Linked DNA regions of Homo sapiens: region 1 is linked to region 2. Evidence: fine-mapped QTL for protein levels in blood plasma. Region 2 holds a variant in brackets. A gene starts in the other region. All regions are shown on their forward strands. Region 1 holds the start of BTC (betacellulin). Region 2 overlaps FOXE1 (forkhead box E1).

Evidence for each region. A credible set is the group of variants that fine-mapping cannot tell apart. PIP is the posterior inclusion probability: the model's chance that the variant is causal. Protein levels are from antibody-based Olink assays in UK Biobank. Linkage for the fine-mapping came from a reference panel and not from the study's own genotypes, which makes the PIPs less certain.
Region 1: BTC starts here. The variant in region 2 is the best candidate, but not a certain one, in a credible set for the plasma level of the BTC protein (UK Biobank, PIP 0.71).

What each region holds. Positions count from the first base shown.
Region 1 is chr4:74,790,239-74,801,206 of GRCh38, forward strand. It overlaps BTC (betacellulin), which reads right to left and starts at 4,285. Exons shown (of 6, transcript NM_001729.4): 1 at 4,024-4,285. The coding sequence starts at 4,087.
Region 2 is chr9:97,854,346-97,865,096 of GRCh38, forward strand. It overlaps FOXE1 (forkhead box E1), which reads left to right. Exons shown (of 1, transcript NM_004473.4): 1 at 1-2,372. The coding sequence ends at 691. Among named protein-coding and RNA genes, the nearest start is that of FOXE1, 6.5 kb to the left of the region's middle. RefSeq lists an enhancer at 8,236-10,052. The variant C/G (reference allele first, on the strand shown) is at 4,375.

The DNA of each region.
Region 1 (10,968 bases), not on the chromosome of region 2:
TGATTTGTCCTGTGCTTTCCTACTGTCTATTATAATAACTCATGCTTATTCTATGTTTGGGGCACATTTTGAGTGGCTTTACATAGTATTGCATTTAATTCACGTAATTGCATTGGTCCTATTACTATTAGCTTTTACAGGTGAGTAAACTGGGCCAAGGAGGTTTAAGAGACTTGCCCGAAGTTTCAGAGCTAGCAAGTCACAGCACCAGGAGGCCATGCCCCAAAGGTCTGGTTCAGAGTTTACAGGCTTGACCACTACATGACCCTGCCTCAAGATATGCTCTTTTTACCCATTTTCAGTAATTGCCATGTGGGTTCTATCAGGGAGACTATGAAGCGATGTCACCCCTTCTCCATCTGCCCAAAGGAGCATCCTCTAGGTGTTGGTGCACTAAGCAGACTGGAGAATATACAGGAGTCACCCACAAATTCAAGGATAGAGTCAGACTAGAATAGAATCAGAATAGACACTGAGTGACACAGGCCAGACACAGTCCAAAATAAAGCACCTGGTCTGACCAATACCAACTGAACATTATTAGTCAGGCTAGCCTGGCCCTGAGCTAGGAGAAGCAGGGTTTCCTGGAAGCAAGGAAGAGCCAGGAGTCCAAGAATCTGTCAGAGAATAGCCAGAGCCAGGGATGGCACAGATGTATGGGTAGGCAGTAGGGAAAGCAAAGGTGTAGGAGACAGCTAGGATGAGCTTACATGCTTTTTAAATAAGTCAAAAGAAATGGTTTCCAGTATTGGTTTTTCCTGTTATATGCAACGCAACGTCTCTGCACTGGAGTGTCCTATCTCTCCCTAGACAGGACATTCTGCACTTGAATGTCCTATCTCTCCCTACCTAATTCAGCAACAAATATTTATCTGCTACGATCTCTTGAGACCAGGAGTTTAAGACCAGCCTGGCCAACATGCCAAAACCCCGTCTCTTCAAAAAATACAATAATTAGCTGGGCGTGGTGGCGAGTGCCTGTTGTCCCAGCTACTCGAGAGGCTGAGACAGGAGAGTCACTTGAGCCCTGGAGGCGGAGGTTGCAGTGAGCTGAGATCATGCCACTGTAACTGAGCCTGAGCGAAAGAGTGAGACTGTCTCAAAAAAAGAAAAAAGAAAAAGAAAAAGAAAAAGAAAATACAGTAGAGAAATACGAGCCCATTTTGGAAAATCTCATTTTTTGAGAAAGTAAGATTAAATGGCTCAGGATTTCTACTGACTTAGAAAATGCCTTTAAACAGTTTTAGAAAATTAAACCAAATTAATGCATATAAAGAATATCGATAACACATAAACGTGTAATTTATATTTATATTAAATGTATTTGTACCATATAATCTGCTTATGGTATACCTTCTTTTTATATCTCCAACCCCACTTCTGTCTTTATAAAATTTCTCAAAGAAAGTAGTACCTAATTTGCATATGTTAGAATGGAAATTATCCTGTAAAGATGCATCTACTAAATGCCAGATGTATTTAAGGAGCATCTACATTTGTAATAGACATAAGCCATTTCTAATTTAAATCACATGTTATTTTGTTTACTTTTTGAAAAGAATGTGACATGGAAAGGGCATCACCATCTAATGAAACCTCTTCATTTTACAAATTAGAAAAACAATGCCCAGAAAGTTGTAACTTACAGACATCTCGGAGTCATGAAGTGGTAGAGCTGGAACCAGGGCTCATGTCTGCTCAATGCCCACTCTCATCGCATTTCCACCATCTCACACACACACACACACACACACACACACACACACACAAACACTAGTGTCTCATGCATCTTATTGCTCACATTCTTTTCAAAAAGTAAATAGAACAACATGTGACATAATTTAGGAAGGGGACTTAAAAGTAAAGTGTGTATGACAGAAATAGGGCCACTTAATGGAAACAGCGATGCCAACAAATTACGTTCCTTAGCATTTTGCAAGAAATAGAGCTTTAAGGGGATCTAGAGACCAAATTCAATTTCCCAAGCCAATCATTTAACAGGGCGGTTGTACATTTAGGTTACCCTGAGTGTACAATAGCACTGGATTCGAGTTTTGCTTTTTGATTTTCATTTCTGTCTTTTGACAAGTTTTGTGATAGTAAAGGGGAAAGAATGTCCATCGACTTTCAATAGTCATTTCTACTATGACACCTCTGCTAAAACATCACCCTAATTTAGGCCCCAAGTAGCTCATGCCCAGATTATACCTACGAGACAATCAGGTCCTCTGGCCCACAGGCGCCCCCCCTTCCTATACTGCACCTCACTGACAGATTTATCACCTTTAAACCATTGTTTGCATCATATCACTCCCAGTCAAGCCCTGTGATGGTGTGTGTTTAATAGCTTATTGATTCTGTTCCAAATATTCTAATCTGGCTTTTTCAGTTCTTCATAATCTGTCTGCCTCTCAGAAATTCTACTCTTTCCAGTAAAGCATGCTCATTCGCATCGCCAACCCTTTACTAAATGCTTTTTCCCTTGTCTCTGTTCCCTCTTTCCTCTCTACTATTGCAAACTCTACCCAAGCCTCAAGGCACGCATTCGTGTCCTCCATTCAGCCTTTCCCCACTATTCCAGCCCCCGCTGTTGAGCTCTTTCTCCCTTTTCTGATTCCGTGAATTTTTCCACAGGTTACCCTGCTGGGCTTGCATATCCAAATTCAGTGCAAGTTCTAGGGCAGGAATCATGTTTTATTTTAGGAATCTCATGAGCCCTTTCCCCACCTCCATTGCTACATACCTCAGCACCTTGCTGACTACGACAGATTCTCAGGGAATACTTTGACTGTTGGATAGTTTAGACACGGTGGAGGAAGAGAATGTCAGCTACTTGCAAGCAATGCTGGCAAAAGCATCAGTACTATTTCTAGGGTTAAGTCTCAACCCCATTGCTCTTCTTCATGAATGTACACATTCACTCTACCACTAAATTGTTACTGACTCCTTCCTCTTCAGCGTTTGTTAAATAAGTTTATTTTCTCTAACCTTGGTCCTAAGTCTGATCCACCTCCAAGCAAGTTCACTGTACCTTTTTAGCCACCTCTCTTACTCCAAGGACACAGTCAAATGAAAGTTTTCATTTAGGCTCCCCCTCTCTTTCCTCAATAAGAGGAATTCCCATTCTTTTTCATTTGTGGTGTCCCCTTCCCAGGCTTGAAGGTAGGAGTGATATCGTGGTGACACTTCAGCTGTGGAGACTCTCCTCCTACCACATAAATGCTCCAAACCCAGATGTGTCTACAGCCCAGCTAAGATTAGAAAATGTTACTGGTTTCCCTTCCCTTCTCTGCCCCGCAAAATGACCATGATGCAGAGAGCAAGCTTTGAAGAGTTGGGATTTTTTCCTACTTAGAAGCCTTCTCACTACCTTCCCTCGGTGGAGGGGAAGGGGAAGCCTGCTTCCAGCCACATCTGAAGTTCCAGCTCTGCTTTGTGAGTTCTGACTCCTAAGGAGGCAGGAGAGACCCTCTGGAGGGCTCTAGGCATCCTGCTACTCCTCCTCCCGCTGGCACTCTTCCCTAACGCCAGGTGATCACACCTTCAGTCAAAGAGTTCCCGTTCTTCTGCCTCCTGCAGGATATGCTTCTTGGTCTATACTACCACGTGAGCTTCTTTAGTGGGTTTCCCTGCTCGCCCCTGCCCCCACCCCCCGACCCTCACTTGCGAGCACAGCGCCTCACCCCGGTGGACAGCCCGCCGGCGCCGCCAGGCCCTCTGCTGTGCGCACAAGTCAGCAGCTGGCGGCCTGCTCGCAGCACTGGCAGCGAGGACCTCGGAATCGCTTCCGCCCTCGGGCCTTCTCACGCGTCTAGGGACTGCCTCCAGCAGGTGCAGCCCCAGGTGCCCAATTGCCAGATCTTTAACCTCGCGCTCTCCCAGCCTTCAAAGTTCTCCAACCCGCGCCTGCCAGCCCCAGCGCGCCCTCTTGTCCAGATGCCAGCTCGGTTCAGGGTTCGCCCTCCCCGCGACTCCAGCCCCAGACTTTCCTCCTGGTTTCCAGTGCCCAGCACGGCCACTTACCCAGGGCAAGGGCCAGGAGCAGTGGCAGGGAGCTGGCGCCGCTGCACCGGGCGGCCCGGTCCATCAACCCCGCTCTGCCGGGCCGGGCAGCCCCTAGACAAGTCTCCCTCCTTCTTCGCCCCCTTCCCGGGCCTCGGGCGCCTGAGAGGGTGCCTGGAAACTAATCCCGGAGGCAGAAGGAAACGAAACTACTTCCCAGGCTGGCACCCTGGCTACAAGGCAGGGAAACACCCAGGGCGGGAGGCCGGCCGGCTCCGTGAATGTCGCCGGGAGGAGGGAGCCTCCTATTTATCCCCCCTCCTCCTGCACACACCCCGCCAAAGAGGCGCAGGACTTGGTCCTGGGAGCCTCCACGCTGCTCCCACCCAAATTGCCCCACACCCATACCCACACCCAGGGACATATTCGGGCTGCCCTCGGACCAGCTCACCACTCCCCCTGCTGGGTCTCACCTGACTGACTGTTCATTTCCCTACCCCCTAGGGCGTAAACAAGGTAGGGAGGGAGATGTAAAGAATCCGCGTGGAGGGGTGTCGGGGGTTCCGGTCGGGCCTGCAGGCTGACCTAAACTCCTGGAAGCCACCGAGGAAGAGTCAGAGACCCAAACGTGTTCTGGAATTCTAACTTCCTTTATTTCAGAGGATTGCTAGTGTCATGGAGAAACCAGACTCACCATTCATTGTGGTTGACTTCAGGCATTTGATAATGCAGGCAATTTCAAAAGAGTCATTGTTGCCTTTTAAAGTCTTGAAGCCATAGCGAAACCTCGTCTCTACAAAAAATACAAAAGTAAATTAATAGCCGGGTATGGTGGTGTGCACCTGCAGTCCCATCCATTCCCTGAGGCTGAGGTGGGGAGGATCGCTTAAGCTTGGGAGATGGAGCCTTCAATGAGCCTAGATCGAGCCACTTCACTCCAGCCAAGGCGCAAGAGTGAGACACTGTTTCAAAACAACGACAACAACAACAACAACATCAGCAACAAAAAAAAAAAAAAAAAAAAAGAAAAGAAATGAAAAAAGTCTTCAAGCTAGTGTCTTAGTTTCTGGGTGCATTGTCTTCTAATAATTCATAAAATTGGGGCTCACCAGGACCTACTTTAGAAATTTCATTTGTATTTCTGTTTATGAATTTACTCATGTATTCAGTATATTTTCATTTACTTGCATTAAGCAATTTCTGGAACAGAAAGACATCCTCACAGCTTTTAGAGAAAGCAAGCAGCATCCAATTTTACCTTATGTGGTTATATATTGCCTCCAAGATAACCAAAAGATACAGCTGCTTTTGTACTGGTCTGTGTTCCTCATATAAGATTTATGTGGATAATTATGCCCCTCAGTACAGAAATTTTATTTCTATAGCATCCAAAAGTCATGTAAGCCTTATTTTACATATGAAATGTAGTTTGGGTGTCTGCCTCTTCCTCCTCATCCTACTGTTTAAGTTAAGTAAATTGTTGTGCACTTGTCTCCCACGAATAACATTTCATTTCAAAACTAAATTATTTTACTGCCCCAGGCAACTGATATATCCGGTGGAATAAAAATCAGCTCTTAATTTTCAGAATCCCATTCTAGTCCCACATGACAGCTCATAAAACATTGGTAGAGAGGGCAGGCATGAAGTTTAAAGAAACCCAAAGTTGTAAGATGGAAGGTTACTGCACCCCAGCTAAAAAGAGCAGAAACACTGGAAGCCAATGGATTTTGACATCATCTCCCTCCCTCTCAACACTTCCACCCTGCATTTTTCTTTTCTGATATTCTCTCCATCTCTCAGCACCAGTGCCCTAAGTTAAAGTATCTCTTACTCCAAGATGGCATTTAGCCTAGCCAACAGCTGTCCTGTTAGCCCCAACAGAATGCTACAATTTTGTTTTCCTTTTTCGTAGATACTAATAAAAAAAAAAAAAAGCGAGACCTAAACAAAAAGTACTAAATGTTTGTTGAGCATTGGAAAATTCCAGGACTTGGTGTAAGTATTCATCATTTATGCCATTCAAGTGGTAAATTAACTTTTTCAGGCCACTAGAATATGAAGTAGTATAATTTAATATACTAAATAGGACAGATAAATTAATAACCTTCCTTGAGGGCTTTATTTACCACCATAAATAAAATAAGTACTCCCAAGAAAATCCAAATTTTCTGACACTGGATATCCAATCTCTTCAATGTTAAGAGACTTTTCCTGTCTTTTTTTGTTTGTTTCTTTTTTTTCCCCTCACTTTCTTTCTCTCTGTTCTTCCTCCTCTTCTTCCCTCTCCTTCTCCTTCTTCTTTTTCTCCCCCAGCCCCCAACCACCTCTCTCTCTCAAGTCATTTGCTTATGGGGCATGGTAAAGCTGGAATACAACCATTACATTTGGAAGAGTGGAAGGTAAGAATTGATTTTCCTGAGTCCTCAAACATGTAACTGAGTTGCGTCTCAGTGCTTTCATTTGCAAGCTGAGCTGTTACTAAGAGAAAAATAAACCAAAGTTACACCAGAGTCACAAGGTGAAACTTGTATTCCTAGTTAACCCCAAGGTAGGAATTGCTTGAGTGCTGTTCTTCCTGTGCCAGGTTTAGGCAGGTATAACCAGTCCTCCCAAATCTGGTATGAGGCTTAAGTAGATTCCTTTGGAGGGCCTTTAAGCATCAGCCTTTTTCTCTTCCCACACAGAACAGCCTGCAGCTGGGACCGTCCTCCCCGTCTTCTGGACAGGACAAAATAAACTTGTAGTTACATATAGGGCACAACACATAAACAGACACACGCCATGATGGAAAGGAAAATTTTGGAATGCATTCCTTCTAGGCCAACATGTATTCTCCAAATGAAGGCTTTAAGGCATTCAGTAGTATAGGAAAATTTCCTAATGACCATTAACTTTATTTAATAAGAGTGGGTGAATGAAAATGATGAAAGGCATTTTTAAAATTGTAATTTTTATAGTAATGATAAGCATCATGCATTGTAGATTATTAGTGGTACAGTTACATAGAGAGAACTTTCAAATATTTTATTTAAAACTACTGAATTGGTTTCTAAGAATGTATCAGTGAAAAATCACTGCTCAAAAGTTGTATTCAGGTAATTGTATTTTATAATCTAGTTGTTCTGAGGGAGGTAGTTATTTTTTTTCCTGCCTACTTTCTTGTATCTTCCTCTTCAGTCTAGGGGATCCACTTTTTATATGTATTTCTCAATGTGTTTGATTTGTATCTCTTTTATTTTTATTTATTTTGTTTTTTGAGACAAAATCTTGCTCTTGTCCCCCAGGCTGGAGTGCAATGGCGTGATCTCTGCTCACTGCAACCTCTGCCTCCGGGTTCAAGCAATTCTCCTGTCTCAGCCTCCCAAGTAGCTGGGGATTGCTGGCACCTGCCACCACACCCAGCTAATTTTTTGTGGTTTTTTTTTAGTAGAGATGGGGTTTCACCATGTTGGCTAGACTGGTCTCGAACTCCTGACCTCAGGAGATCCACCTCGGCCTCCCAAAGTGCTGGGATTACAGGCGTGAGCAACCACGCCCGGCTGACTTGCTATCTCTTTTAAATGGCAGCTTAACATATGTTATTAAACCTCAAAAATAATTGTCTCTGTGACATTATACCTGTTAGTTTCAGTTCACCATGATGATCTTTTTCTTTGGCCATATTGAAACATACTTCAAAAAGTAACTTCTGATTTTAAAAAATCTGGGCTTTTGTGCTGGCCCTAGTTGTAGGCTAAGTGAGAAAGCACCTATGTGGCCCTAGACATCTCTTCCTAAAGTCCTTGCCACAGTGGCTTCATCTCTTCCTACTTGGTCCCAGACTTCCAGCAAGGTAGACACTCCTCTAGGTGGGACAACAGAGCTGGAATATTATGTACAATTGGTTTTGGAATCTGTTCAGTCTGTTCAATTTGGATCTGTGTCACCCAATGACTGAACCACAAACTACTTACCTCTCTGAACCTCAGTTTCCTCATTGATAAAATGTGATGGTAATGACTTGCACAGTTTTTATGATTCCCAATAATACATATCTTCAAGGAAAAAATCTGGTGTATTAGAAACTGTTCAGTGAATTATAGTTGATAGTAGTAGGAGTAGGAGTACTAGTAGTAGTAGTATTGGTAGAGATGGGTGTCTCACTATGTGACTAGTCTCGAACTCCTGGCCTCAAGTAATCTTTCCTCCTCAGCCTCCCAAAATGCTAGTATTACAAGCATGAGCCACCATGTTCCACTGATAGTTGTTATGTCATTATAAAATTTTACATGGTACATAGAGAGAACCAGTAGGAAAAGGCATCCTTACTAACCCTCTCTTACTAATAGTTGAAGTAGAGAAAGAAAGGCACAGAGCAAGGCTCTGCTGGGAAAGTAACACTGAGCTAAAATTCCATGGATTTGGGTACAATTTTGCCTCTTCATATGCCCTTACACCTCCCTTACACCTCTCTGACCACCTTCTCCATCCTTTTTATTTCTCCTTCCTCCTTCAACTCTCTTTAGAGACCAAGATAGCACGTAACCCAGGATACAAAAACGTGTTGAATATAAACAAAGTACTGTGATTTGAAGATTTAAATAAATGAGCTACCTAGTTTCCCAGAATGCAAAGAAATAAATTCAAAAATTAACTCAAAAAATGAATGTTTGTTGTTGTTGTTGTTGTTGTTGTTGTTTTTGAGACAGAGGAGTCTCACTCTGTTGCTCAGGCTGGAGTGCAATGGCGCAATCTTGGCTCACTGCAAACTCTGCCTCCCGGGTTCAAGTGATTCTCCTGCCTCAGTCTCCCAAGTAACTGGGATTGCAGACATGCATCACCACGCCAAGCTAATTTTTGTATTTTTAGTAGATACGGGGTCTCCCCATGTTGGCCATGCTGTTCTTGAACTCTCGACCTCAGGTGATCCACCCAGCTCGGCCTCCCAAAGTGCTGAGATTACAGGTGTGAGCCACCGCACCCAGCCAAATAATGAATGCTTAATGAGTTTACAACAAACTAACACAGCTTTACGTGGTCATTTTCCCTCCTTCCCCCAACTTCTTGGTAAGGAGAAATGGTGACAGGAAAGAGTAAGAAATGAGAAGCAGCAAAGCTGGAGAAGAGAGGGAGGATGAGCTTAAAATAATTCTTCAAAAAATCTTTCATAGATGCAGAATGATATGTTAAAGGAGTTAAAAAAAAGGTGAAATCTACCTCTTGTATCATCTTCGTTTCTCATCCTTCCTTTGTTTTAAGGTGACATCAATATACATGTTATTAACCTCAAAATAATTTAATGGTCCTTATGATTCCCCCAAACAATTCAGTTATATCTTTAGTCTAACAATCCTTGGAATTTAAGATTTTTTCAGAGATAACTACATGTCTTCCTTTAATGATACATTTAAATTGCTTTTATATTTCTCATAGTGTAATTTTTTCGGAAATATTTCTTTAGCCCTATAATATATACCTGCCATCTGTCCATAAATACAGTATTTTTAAAACGCTAAAACTAATGTAAACTCTTCAGAAATGACTTAGCAGAAAATATGATATCATGCTTACAAAATATTCTGAAGTTACTGTCCTTTGTCTTTAAGGTATATTGAAAGTTCTTATTATTGTCCCTATGAATCTCTGTAAGATACTTTTAATAATTTTGTCCCCAGCATTACCACCTAATAATGGTCCACATAACTAGTTAGTTTTGAGATCCAAGGAGTATAATCCACAAATGCAAACAAGTTTAAACCTTAGAAAATAAAACCAGCATTACTCTCTAAATTTACTATGTTTAGGCTTTTGGGAGATAAGAAAAACTAGTATCCGTTTAATTTAATAAGAATTAATTATCTACATTTGTACAATACTTTCCCATATATTAACGATTTGAATTTAAAGTAGCTGCTGAGATAGGCAGGCAGTATTATTATTCTCATCTTAATGAGAGGAAATAGATGTCTGCATAGTCAAGTGATTGGTCCAACTTTCAAAGTAACTCCTAGAATCAAGGTCTAAAGGCAGTAAGGCTCAAGCTATCATAACGAAATGCCATAGACTGGGTGGCATAAACAACAAAAATTTATCTTCTCACAGTTCTAGAAGCTAGGAAGTATGAGATCCGGTGATTCAGTCCTAGTGAGGTCTCTTTTCCTGGCTTGCAGATGGCCACCTTCTCACTGTGAGCTCACATGGCCTTTTTTCATCATGTTCACATGAAGAGAGATAGGGAGATCTCGCTTTTTCTCTTCTTATGAGGCCACCAATCCTATCAGGTTGGGACTCCATTATTATGACGTCATTTAACCTTAATTACCTCCTAAAAATCCTATATCCAAGTCACCCTGGGGGTTAGGGCTTCAATGTATAAATTTTGAGGGAATACAAACATTCAGTTCATAACATAGAGTTGGGTTTGGGAATTAGACAGGCTTAGCTCTGCCACTTTTTTCTTTTTAATAAAGCTTTTTATGTTTAAAACGTTTAGATTCAAAGAGAAATTCAAAAATGTTACAGAGAGTTTCTGTACATCTTGCATGTAGTTTCTCCTATTGTTAATAGCTTACCTTAGTAAGGTTCATTTGTTGAAACTAAGGAACAAACATTAGTGCATTGCTATTAACTAAAGTCCATATTTTACTTACATTTTCTTTGTTTTTGTCTAATTTTTTTTTTTATGTTCCAGTGTCCCATCCTGGATACCACATTACCTTTAGTCGTCATTTGTCCTAAGGATCCTTTTGGCTGTGACAGTTTTTCAGACTTTGCTTTTGCTGGCCTTGAAAGTTTCAAAGAGTACTCATCAGGTATGTCATAGCATGTTCTACAATTGTGTCTTTTCTGAGGTTTTTCTCATGGTTAGGTTTTTCTGGTTTGGTGGAAGAAGACCACAATGATAAAATATCATTTCTACTGATTTTATGAAGGGTGAATAATGTCAACATGATAACTATTCTTGATATTGACCTTGGTCACCTG
Region 2 (10,751 bases):
CCGCCGCAAGCGCTTCAAGCGCTCGGACCTCTCCACCTACCCGGCTTACATGCACGACGCGGCGGCTGCCGCAGCCGCCGCCGCCGCCGCCGCCGCCGCCGCCGCCATCTTCCCAGGCGCGGTGCCCGCCGCGCGCCCCCCCTACCCGGGCGCCGTCTATGCAGGCTACGCGCCGCCGTCGCTGGCCGCGCCGCCTCCAGTCTACTACCCCGCGGCGTCGCCCGGCCCTTGCCGCGTCTTCGGCCTGGTTCCTGAGCGGCCGCTCAGCCCAGAGCTGGGGCCCGCACCGTCGGGGCCCGGCGGCTCTTGCGCCTTTGCCTCCGCCGGCGCCCCCGCTACCACCACCGGCTACCAGCCCGCAGGCTGCACCGGGGCCCGGCCGGCCAACCCCTCCGCCTATGCGGCTGCCTACGCGGGCCCCGACGGCGCGTACCCGCAGGGCGCCGGCAGTGCGATCTTTGCCGCTGCTGGCCGCCTGGCGGGACCCGCTTCGCCCCCAGCGGGCGGCAGCAGTGGCGGCGTGGAGACCACGGTGGACTTCTACGGGCGCACGTCGCCCGGCCAGTTCGGAGCGCTGGGAGCCTGCTACAACCCTGGCGGGCAGCTCGGAGGGGCCAGTGCAGGCGCCTACCATGCTCGCCATGCTGCCGCTTATCCCGGTGGGATAGATCGGTTCGTGTCCGCCATGTGAGCCAGCGTAGGGACGAAAACTCATAGACACATCGGCTGTTCACACGTTCCCCGCAATCTGAGAACGAACAGGAATGGAGAGAGGACTCAACTGGGACCCACGTGGAAAAGACCGAGCAGGCCACAGAGGCTCGGTCTCCCCGCGCACAGCGTAGGCACCCGGTGTACTCTGTAAACGGGAGGAGGTGGGGCGAGGCAGCCAGAGCCCTTGGACTGGCACAGGGACCCTCGATGGAGCGAAGCCCTCAAACGGGATGCTTTCTGGTATTCTATCGGGGAGGGTCCTTGGCGGTAACCAGAGGGCAGCGTAGTGTCAACACCAGAGACCAGGATCCAAATTGTGGGGAATCAGTTTCAGCCTTCCATGTGCTGCCGGAACTCGGGCCTTTTTACGCGGTTCGTCCTCTAGTGCCTTTAACTGCGTTACTACAATAAAAGGCTGCGGCAGCGCCTTTCTTCTTAAAGTGAGGAGGACAAATTTGCAAAAGAAATAGGCTTTTCTTCTTTTTTAAATTGGAGAAATCTCTGCTCTGGTTGACCTGGGCTGGTTTTCCCTGTCTCTGAGAACTTGAGACCTAGCTCCGAGTTGAACTGTGCGTCAGCACTCCAGTCCCATCACCTGAACCTTCAGTCTCCCCCATCTGTTACACTAGAGGGCTGCAGGACTCTATCCACCGCCCCCGGGTTATCATTCAGGGCCCCATCATCTTGGATGCTGCCCTGCGTATTTGGCAGCAATGGTGGGCCACCCAGGGCCTCTGAGTAGCCACCCAAAGCCTAGCCGCTGTTCTAGGGAACGGAAAAGAGTTCATGGCCAAGCGTCTAACCTAAAGTCCCAGGATTGGCTCCAGGCAGCAATTATATCATAACTTATTGAACTTTTGAGCAGGACGTGCTGGTAATTTCATGGCTGTTACTGCCCAGTCATAAATCTGCTTTTCCATTATAAGGCAGAGAGAAGTACATTCGTTCATTTGTCCACTGTTTCTTGTCATCACGCAGCCCTGGACCCAAAGGGTGAACTAAAGTTTAAGGAGATGAGAGGATTCAAGGAGCCCGTTGGTGACGCCTTTCAGTAGCTGGGGAGGGCTCTTCCATCCCCAGCACCCCCTGCTACACCTCAGCAGCCTCCCCCATGCAAAAAGGAAAGAGAAAAATTAAGTTAGGGCAGTCAGTAAAGTGAGCTTTAGAAAGAAACTGGAATTTTAACTTCATTTTGTATCTTGCTTAAGTAGCAGGCTCACTAAAATTAGAGAAAGTCCAATAACTCTCCCCCTTTCCCTTGAGAAATCTTTAAGTTTCGATTCTGGAGCAAAAACTTTCAGCATTAAATATTTCAGAGGCTCCATTCACAGCTTTCAGATAAACTGGAGTGTTCAGATGGACTGTTTTAATAAAAATCTTTGAGCAAGTGAGTTATGGCAAGAGAAACTCAGCCTCTTTCTGTATAAACTTAACAGGGAAGGGCTGGGGTGTGAAAAAGAAGATTGTATGAAAACCATTGGTAATTTTTATTTTTTATTTTTGGGACTGCACTATCCTGTTCACGAAGACATGTGAACTTGGTTCAGTCCAAATGGGGATTTGTATAAACCAGTGCTCTCCATTAGAAATATGGTGCAAGCCACATATGTAATTTTAAATATTCTAGTAGCCACATTAATAAAGTAAAAAGAAACAGGTGAGGTTAATTTGAATGATATACTTAACCCAACATATCAAAAATATTATGATTTCAACATATAATCAATGTAAAAATTGAGATGTTTTGCTCTCCTTTTACATGAAGGGTTTACAATTTGGAGTGTGTTTTACACTTACAGCTTCTCTAAATGTGGACTAGTCACCTGCTAGGTGTTCAGTAGCAACACTGTGTTGTGCAGTGCAGGTCTAGGTGCTGGCCCTTCCTGGCTTTGGTGGTGGTACCTGGAAGCACTTGAGCGCTGACCCTGCCACCCGTCGGCCCAAATTCCAGACCCAGCCTTGTGACCTTGAAGAGTGCAGGTATTGGGCCGCCCTCCTCTCCCTAAGAATCTTTGCAGGTATGGAGTTCAAGGGTTCTCCTTCATTCAGCTAGACAAGCTGGCTGTCCCAGGTGCAGAGGTCAGGATGACTTGCCTGGTTGAGAAGAATGGGAAAGTAAGAGTTCTCCACCCAGGAGTTTTGTTCTGGGCTGCAGAAGAGCCCAGGCGTGGGACTGGGGCTGGAGAAGGCTGGTTTTTGCCCTTAGTGCCAGAGTTGAGGCTTTCTCTGTTTCCTAATGAGCAAGTCCAGTGCTTTGACAGCACCACTAATCTTAAGCCAGTCCCTTCTCCTCTCGGGTCGTCATTTGTGAAATGGGAATTTGTGACTGCTACCTCAGATAATTTTCCTGAAGTTAAACGAGAGGAGAGGTGAAAAGCGCTTTGTAAACTGCAAAGCGCAGAGCATAGCAGGGCTGAAAGGCTTTAAATAAGCGCTGCCTTGTAACAAAGCCTCCTGGAGTGTCATGATAAAGCCCCGGGAAGGAGAAAGACAGGGTGGGAAAGAGCGGACATTTTCGTCCCCCATTCTACTTGTCAACTTGCGGGACAGGTAAGATTGTGCCAAAGGCGAGGGTCAGCATCAGGAGAGAGAGGACGCTGCGGGGAGGGACCTGGTTGTGTGCTTCAGGTGCCCCAAGGGACACGGAGACGCGCGAGGGTTGGGATCAAGGCGTTGAAGACAGAGCGACAGCCCTTCTCGGCCTCCCACCGGCCGACGACACCAAGAGCTCGCGCACCGGCCGGGCCAGGTGGGAATGGGCGCCGCGCAGGGGAGCGAGTACCTCGGAGACAGTGCGCGCCGCCCGGGGCCTCATCCACAGCGGGGTCGCGGGCGGCCCCCTTAGCCCGCGTGACTGTGGGATCCTGAGAACATTCCGCTGTATGTCTTGGAACCTTCTAACCCTAGGAATTTGCAAACCCCTCCCAGTCCCTCATCTGGGGGCTCAGAGACTGGAGGTGCCTTTTTTATTTTTTTCTTCTTCACTTTATGAACACAGAAAAATCGTTTGTCCCTCTCCGGGCCCTGCACCCGCCAGCGTCGTGTGCAGGCGTCCCCGGGCTGTGGATAATTAGACACGTTCTTCCCTCATTGCCCAAGGCTCGTTAGAATTCGCCCTAGAGCTGTATCATGTATTTTCTTTCAAATTAACTTTGCTTGCAATTAAGCTTAGGGAACCAGCAACAAAAGCAAACTTGGCCCGAGGTCGTTCACCGCGAAAATGGATTAGAGAAACTTCTTCCCCGATTTAAGGGGAAAGATTCCTGCGGCCAGCGCTTTGGGGAAAGTGCCCCGACCGCAGAGGCGACGACAGGGGAGCAGGAAGCTGCTCACGGTAGTCGGCGTTGGCGGCAGCGGTGGCCTTCCTCATCTGGGCGATGTGGGCTCCTAGAAGAGTAAGGATAACATCCTGGAAATGACTTCTGTACGGTTTGAGCCCAACTGCACACTCATGACTTGGAGCTGCCCTGTGGAGTTACAGTTTACCAAACACATTCATGAACATAATCTCATTTACTAAAAACTTTGTGAGAATTTTCTTTTACTAAAATTTTTTCTTATTACAAAATCAGTAGTGTTCATTGTTTTAAAAGAAATAACAGGTAAGAAAAATAAAGAGGGAGGGAAATAACAGCAAAAAAAAAAAAAAAAAAAGGCTGG[C/G]GGGGGGGAACCCATAGTTGGCCCAGAGAATGCGCAGTTAACGCTTAAGTATATATCTTTTCTGGAGTTTGTTTTTGCTTTTGACTTTTCCCCTATACAGGAGGCCTGAGTCTTGACTTTGTCACTAAATTGCTGTGAGGTCTTGAACAAATTCCTTCTGGCATGGAGTGGGCCTGTTTCCCCACCTATAAAACTGGGTGCAGGTCCCCTTTTACCCTTTCACATTTTCTAATGCCTCTTCTTTTGGTCACTTGAATGCAAGATGCACTTCTGCAAGGGCCAGGAGCAAGGCCTGGGGGCAAAGGGAGGCAAGCCCTCCCTGTTGGTTTACACAAGAGATGGAGGTCGGCTGCAAGGACATTCCCTGGGAGCTTGCTAGAAATATTGGTTCTTTGGCCTCACCCCAGACCTCCTAGACCAGAACCTGCCTTTCTATAAGACCCTTAGGTGATTCCTATGCCCTGGTCAAAGAGAAAGAACTTTGAAAAAATGTGTTATTGAGATTAGAGATGCCAGAATAACTTCTAGAAGCCTCCTGTTTCTGGCCCGGAACCCCAGCTAGCACTCCAGCGCTGTCTTGTGGCTCTGACCACAGAGAGCAGAGAGGGCAGGGTGGCAAGGGGACAGAGATGGGGTGGAGTGCTTCATCTCCTCCTTTGAGTACTTTCTGAGTCTTGGAATCCTAGCCCTTAGACTGTACCTCATCTCCTGTTTCCAGCTGTATGGGTGACTGTGACAATGACATTCAACAAGAGTATATCTGAAAACATCTTGAAAGCTGGGGTGACAGAGCCAGGGCAGGAAGCCACGTCCTGATTTCGGGCTGAGGCACTGTAGGGACCTTGGGTTCAAGCTCTATACCCTCCCTTAGCAACAGTCAATTGCCTGAGTATAGAATAAACTTTGCCTCTGACCCCTCAGCTCTAGCCCCAAGTCTGAGGTAGTTGAGGGTTTAGGAGAAAAATTAAGCTTTCTGTTCAGGACACAATGGCCAACTGGAAGGGGTCCCTGTCTCCAAGTCAGTCTGGGCCAAAGGATCCTCTAGTAAAAGCCTAAGGTCCTCCTCAGTGCCCTAAGGAACCCTCCCCTGCCTTGAACACATACGAGCTTGACTTTCTGTGTGTGCTCAGCCTGTTCCTGAGGGTAGACATGACAAGATAGCTGGGGGAATATGTCCCTGATGAAAAACAGTTCAGACAGGGGCATGTACCATGAAGGATGGGGAAGGGGCCCAGATTGGGAAAGCATGTTCCCAGGATCACATTGCACCACATGGGGAGAACCAGGATTTTCATCTCATTGCTTGTATAAGTTCCCAATAGAAATAAATAGGAATATTGTGAGTGTGTGTGGAGCCTCCATAGAGCCATAGAAGGGGTGTGTGACTTGCCCAAGATATGACAGTTACAAGTGTCCAAGCTGGACTAGAACCTCTGCCTCCCCCAATGGAGACTGCATTTGATTATCATCTTAATGAAGGTAATATGGAAGTAAAAGTAATCTGGTGAGGATGTGAAGGTAGGGGCTAAGGAGTGGGGATGGACTGCAGCTTGAGGAATGGACTTACCTGTTAAATAAATAGCTTAGAACTACCTTGAGAGAAAGTAGTGTAGTTAGTGCTCCTCAGGCCAAACTAAGCAGTGAACAAAATTTTAAATGGGATGGACAGGCAGAGTAGGGGCGAGATGGAATGCCCTTAGTGAGTTCTGCTCTCCTGCCCCGGCCCTCTCTCCAGCATCTCCTCTCCCTGGCTGAGGCCAAAGCCAGCCTTTGCAGAGCCCCTGGCATGGTCCTCAATGCTTGGCCTCAAAAGAGGAATGCTGTCTGCTCCCTGTGGAGTTCCTGAACCCCTCTGCCAGCCCCACACTCCCTCTTCTGAGAACGGAAGCTCGGATTTCCAGCTCAGCCCAGAAGGGTTAACCAGGAAGCACCTAGTCAGACACCCAGGGAACAGCTGTCAGCCCCTCCCAGGGTGAGGAAGAGATTGGGAAGCCAGAATCAGGGTGGATCTCAGCCATGGGGCAGAGCACCAGTTTATCTCGCTATCTGAGAACCTGGAGCAGTTTCTCAAGTGGGGGTGGTCAGGGCAGAGCCCCAGTCATGGTTTCTCAGGCATGGAGGTGCTCTGCAACCAGGCAATAAATTGAGAGCCACCACCTCCCAGGACTCAACTCCCACCTCTGCTCACGGCCCCAGCAGCCAGCCAGGGCCTCCCAAGAGTACTCCTGCCTCCATTCTGTCCGTGCTGCCAGCTTGCCTCCCTGAAGCTGAGCTCCAGTCCTGTGGAGAAGGCTGCCTGCCGTCTGCAGTAGAACGCTTCAGTGCCTCACCTGGCACTTGGGACCCTCGGTCATCCTTATGTCAACCTTCTTGCCGGCCACGTCTCCCATAGCTGCCTTCCCACACCCCTAGGCTGCAGCCAACACACCATTTGCTGTTCCCTGACACTCCCATGTGTTCCTGTCATCATGAATTTGCCCTGACCATTCCCTCTCCAGGAACCACCTAACCCCATGCCACGCTTCCACAGCCGCCAGCCCTCCAGGACCCTGTCATCTCTCCCGGATCACAGTGCCAGCCCCTAACAGGACCCCCTGCTTCCTCCCCTGCTCCCTTGGCAGTTTTCCCTACAGCAGCCAATGTGTGACCCAGCTCAAAGCCCAGCCAGACCATGTCACTCTCTCACAGAGGCCCAGACCTCAGGAACAGGGAGTGCAATTAGGAACATGGCGTTTCCACGAGCAGTCCTGTGAAGGGTTTCTCACAGTATGAAGAAAACTACATTTAATATGAATGTTTTCAAAAATTTCCACTCCCACATCATAACACATTCTCTTTTTTTGAGATGGAGTTTCACTCTTGTTGCCCAGGCTGGAGTGCAATGGCGCAATCTCAGCTCACTGCAACCTCCGCCTCCCAGGTTCAAGCAATTCTCCTGCCTCAGCCTCCCGGGTAGCTGAGATTACAGGCATGCACCACTATGCCTGGCTAATTTTGTATTTTTAGCAGAGACGGGGTTTCTCTATGTTGAGGCTGGTCTCGAACTCCTGACATCAGGTGACCCGCCCACCTCAGCCTCCCAAAGTGCTGGGATTACAGGCGTGAGCCATCGCGCCCGGCCAACACATTCTTTTATCCCAAATTTTTATCAAAACCTCACACAACTATTCAACCTTGTGTGAAGTGGGGTCCGCCTTCATTTTCCCTGCACAGGTGCTCATAAAGAATGGTGTCCTCTCCTGGGGACTGTGCTCAGGGCTTTTGATGGCAGGGCCATGTTGAGGACAACTGTCCAGCAGGCAACTCCAGACAGGCATGAAACAATCCACCCTCTTTCTGCCATATAAATATCAGCTTATTTTGAGAAGAAAGTGTGCCAGACACTGCTAGTTGTCTACCCACCCATTTTCTTCACTTCTTGTTTGCTCGCAAGACCCTGATTTTGTTCAGGTTTCAGTTGGTTGTGTCTTATCCCTTGGCAGTGAATCTTGACTTGCATAAGGTAAGCGCAGTCACTATCCTATCACTCTTGTCAGAGATTGATTTGGAAACAGGTACAGGATACTTTCTGGGCCAATGAGATGTTCAGGAAAGTCTGCTGTGGACTTCTGGAACACATTCATTTGGTCTTAACAAAAAATAGGGGAGGGCATGGTGGTGTATGCCTGTAATCCCAGCTACTCAGGAGCCTGAGGCAGGAGAATCACCTGAACCCGGGAGGCAGAGGTTGCCGTAAGCCGAGATCGCACCACTGCACTCCAGCCTGGGTGACAGAGCCAGACTCTGTCTCAAAAACAACAATGACAATAACAACAACAACAACAAACAAATGTATCCTAACTGATACAGAAAGTGACCATGAAAGGGCAGGGGAAAACTGATTCTTGATGTATTCCCTTTGAGACTTCTCTTGGCTTCTTATAAATAAATGTGCAGCTAACAGACTATCTAGCCCTACCCCTTGTTTTATGGAAGAGAAGCCAGAGAAAGTAACTTTCCAAGGTAACAGTGAGTTATCATTGTAGACCCTAGTTCAGGGCCCTTCCACAGCTCCAGGGGCTCAGCAGGAACAAAACTAATAATAATCCCAACATTTTCCAAAAGCCACTTTGTTCAGGGAGTACCAGCCATTTTCACAGGTGTTATCTCTTTGGATCCTCACAGCTCCCCTGGGAAGCAGAAGGTTTCAAATGCACCCTTTTCAGGCAAGGAAACTAAGGTCCAAGAAAAGGGGTAATGAGCTCAAGTCATGTGACCGTTGCACACAGGAGGGACCAACCCTCAACCCGGGTGTAACAAATCCTCAGTAAAATGAACCAGAAATCTGAGGCTCCTTCCTCCCTGGATGTAGGAATCAGGAGGCTGGGAGAATCACCTGTTAGTGTTGACTGGCGCTTGGGAATCCTCTGGCTTCGAGCCTCTGAGTAGGGTGGATTCTCCATATGCCCCTGGCTTATCTCCATACGGCATGTAAGGCTTAAAGATAGTGTCTTTGAGTGTGTGGATCCAGTTGCTTCGGATCCAACAAAGTAGGATGGTTAGTGACCAAGCTGAAGGGAACTGGCGTTTGCTAAAAACAAGCCCTGCCGTTGTGGGACTCCTGTCACCCCACCCAGAACCCTCCCAGCTTCAGCCAGGGTTGGTTCCACCAAGGCGAAAGCTGCAGGAGCAGGCCTGTAGTTTACAGAACACCTGGGAGAGGCTGTGGGTAGCTGGGTAATTTCCAAATTAATTGCAGGAAAAAACTAACAAAACAATCTGCAGGCTAAGCATCCCGGGAGCTCACCCATGAGACTGACAGCCTGGAATCCAGCAAGTACAATGCCGCCGACCACAGACAGGAGGGCCTTTCCTCCTTTCGGGGAGGAGGGCTGACTTCCAACAAGGACCCGTCTGGGCCTGCAGCTGGGCCAAGAGGAAAGCAAAACTCTAGAACCAAAACAGCCTTTCCACCCAAAACCAAACTACAATAAACATAAGCAGCTTTCCCGGAACTGCAAGTTTGGCTAGACCAGAGAATGATCCCCTGATGGAAGGCTTGTTTTCTCAGCAAGGGAGTTTTGGGCCTCATTTTGAAAATTTCTTCCTAAATTCAGACTCAGGAAACTAAGGCTGCTCCCACTGCCCCCTGCAGACTACACACAGGCACGAAATGAGCCTTGAAGCCTCTGCTGTACTCTTTTTTGTTTGTTTGTTTGTTTGTTTTGAGATGGAGTCTCACACTGTGGTCCAGGCTGGAGTGCAGTGGCACGACCTAGGCTCACTGCAACCTACACCTTCTGAGTTCAAGCGATTCTCCTGTGTCAGCCTCCTAAGTAGCTGGGATTACAGGCGCCCACCATTACACCCAGCTAATTTTTGTATTTTTAGTAGAGATGGGGTTTTGCCATGTTGGCCAGGCTGATCTCGAACTCCTGACCTCAGGTGATCTGCCCACCTCAGCCTCTCAAAGTGCTGGGATTACAGGCGTGAGCCACGGCCTGCTGTACTCTTCATAACCGTCAAATCTTACCTTTGTTGATACTTTGCAGCTTCCCAAGAGGCTGTCTGCCTTCGTGAGAAAAGCACTGGTTTAAGTCCTGGCTTTGATACCTGAGAAGTCTTAGTGCCCCCGAAAATCCCCTACGGAGGTAGTGACTATGAACTAGAAAACAGTGGGAGCATAGTTGAAGCCAGGCAGTCTGGGTCCAGAGCTTCTTAGTAGGTGCATGCCACTGTGCCCAGCTCTATGTTTAATCTTTTGAGAAACCACCAAACTTTCCCATAGTTACTGCACCATTTTGCATTCCCACCAGCAATGCATGAGGATTCCAGTTTCTCCACATTCTTACCAGCACTTGTTATTTTCTGGGGTTTTGTTTGTTTGTTTCTGTTTTCTTATAATCATCCTGGTAAGTGTGCAGAGGTATCTCATTGTGGTTATGATTTGCATTTCCCTAGTGACTAATAATGTTGAGCATTTTTTCATGTGCTTAGGGGCCATTTGTATATTTTCTTTGGAAAAATGTCTATTCGAGTCCTTTGCCCATTTTTGAATTAAGTTGTTTTATTGTTACTGAGTTTTAGATGTTCTTTATGTATTTTGAATATTAATTCCTTATCAGGTATATGCTTTACAAATATTTTCTCTCATTTACTAGGTCATCTTTTTCACTTTTTGATAGTATTCTTTGATGCACAGAAGTTCTTAACCTTGATAAAGTTCAATTTTTCTTTTTTGTTTGTTTTCTACTCTTTTACTGTTATACCCATGAAGTCATTGTCAAATCCAATGTCATGAAGATTTTCCCAAATTTTTCATCTAAAAGTCGTATAGCTTTAGCTCTTCAGTTTAGGTCTTTGATTCATTTTGAGTTCTTTTTTGTATATGGTGTAAA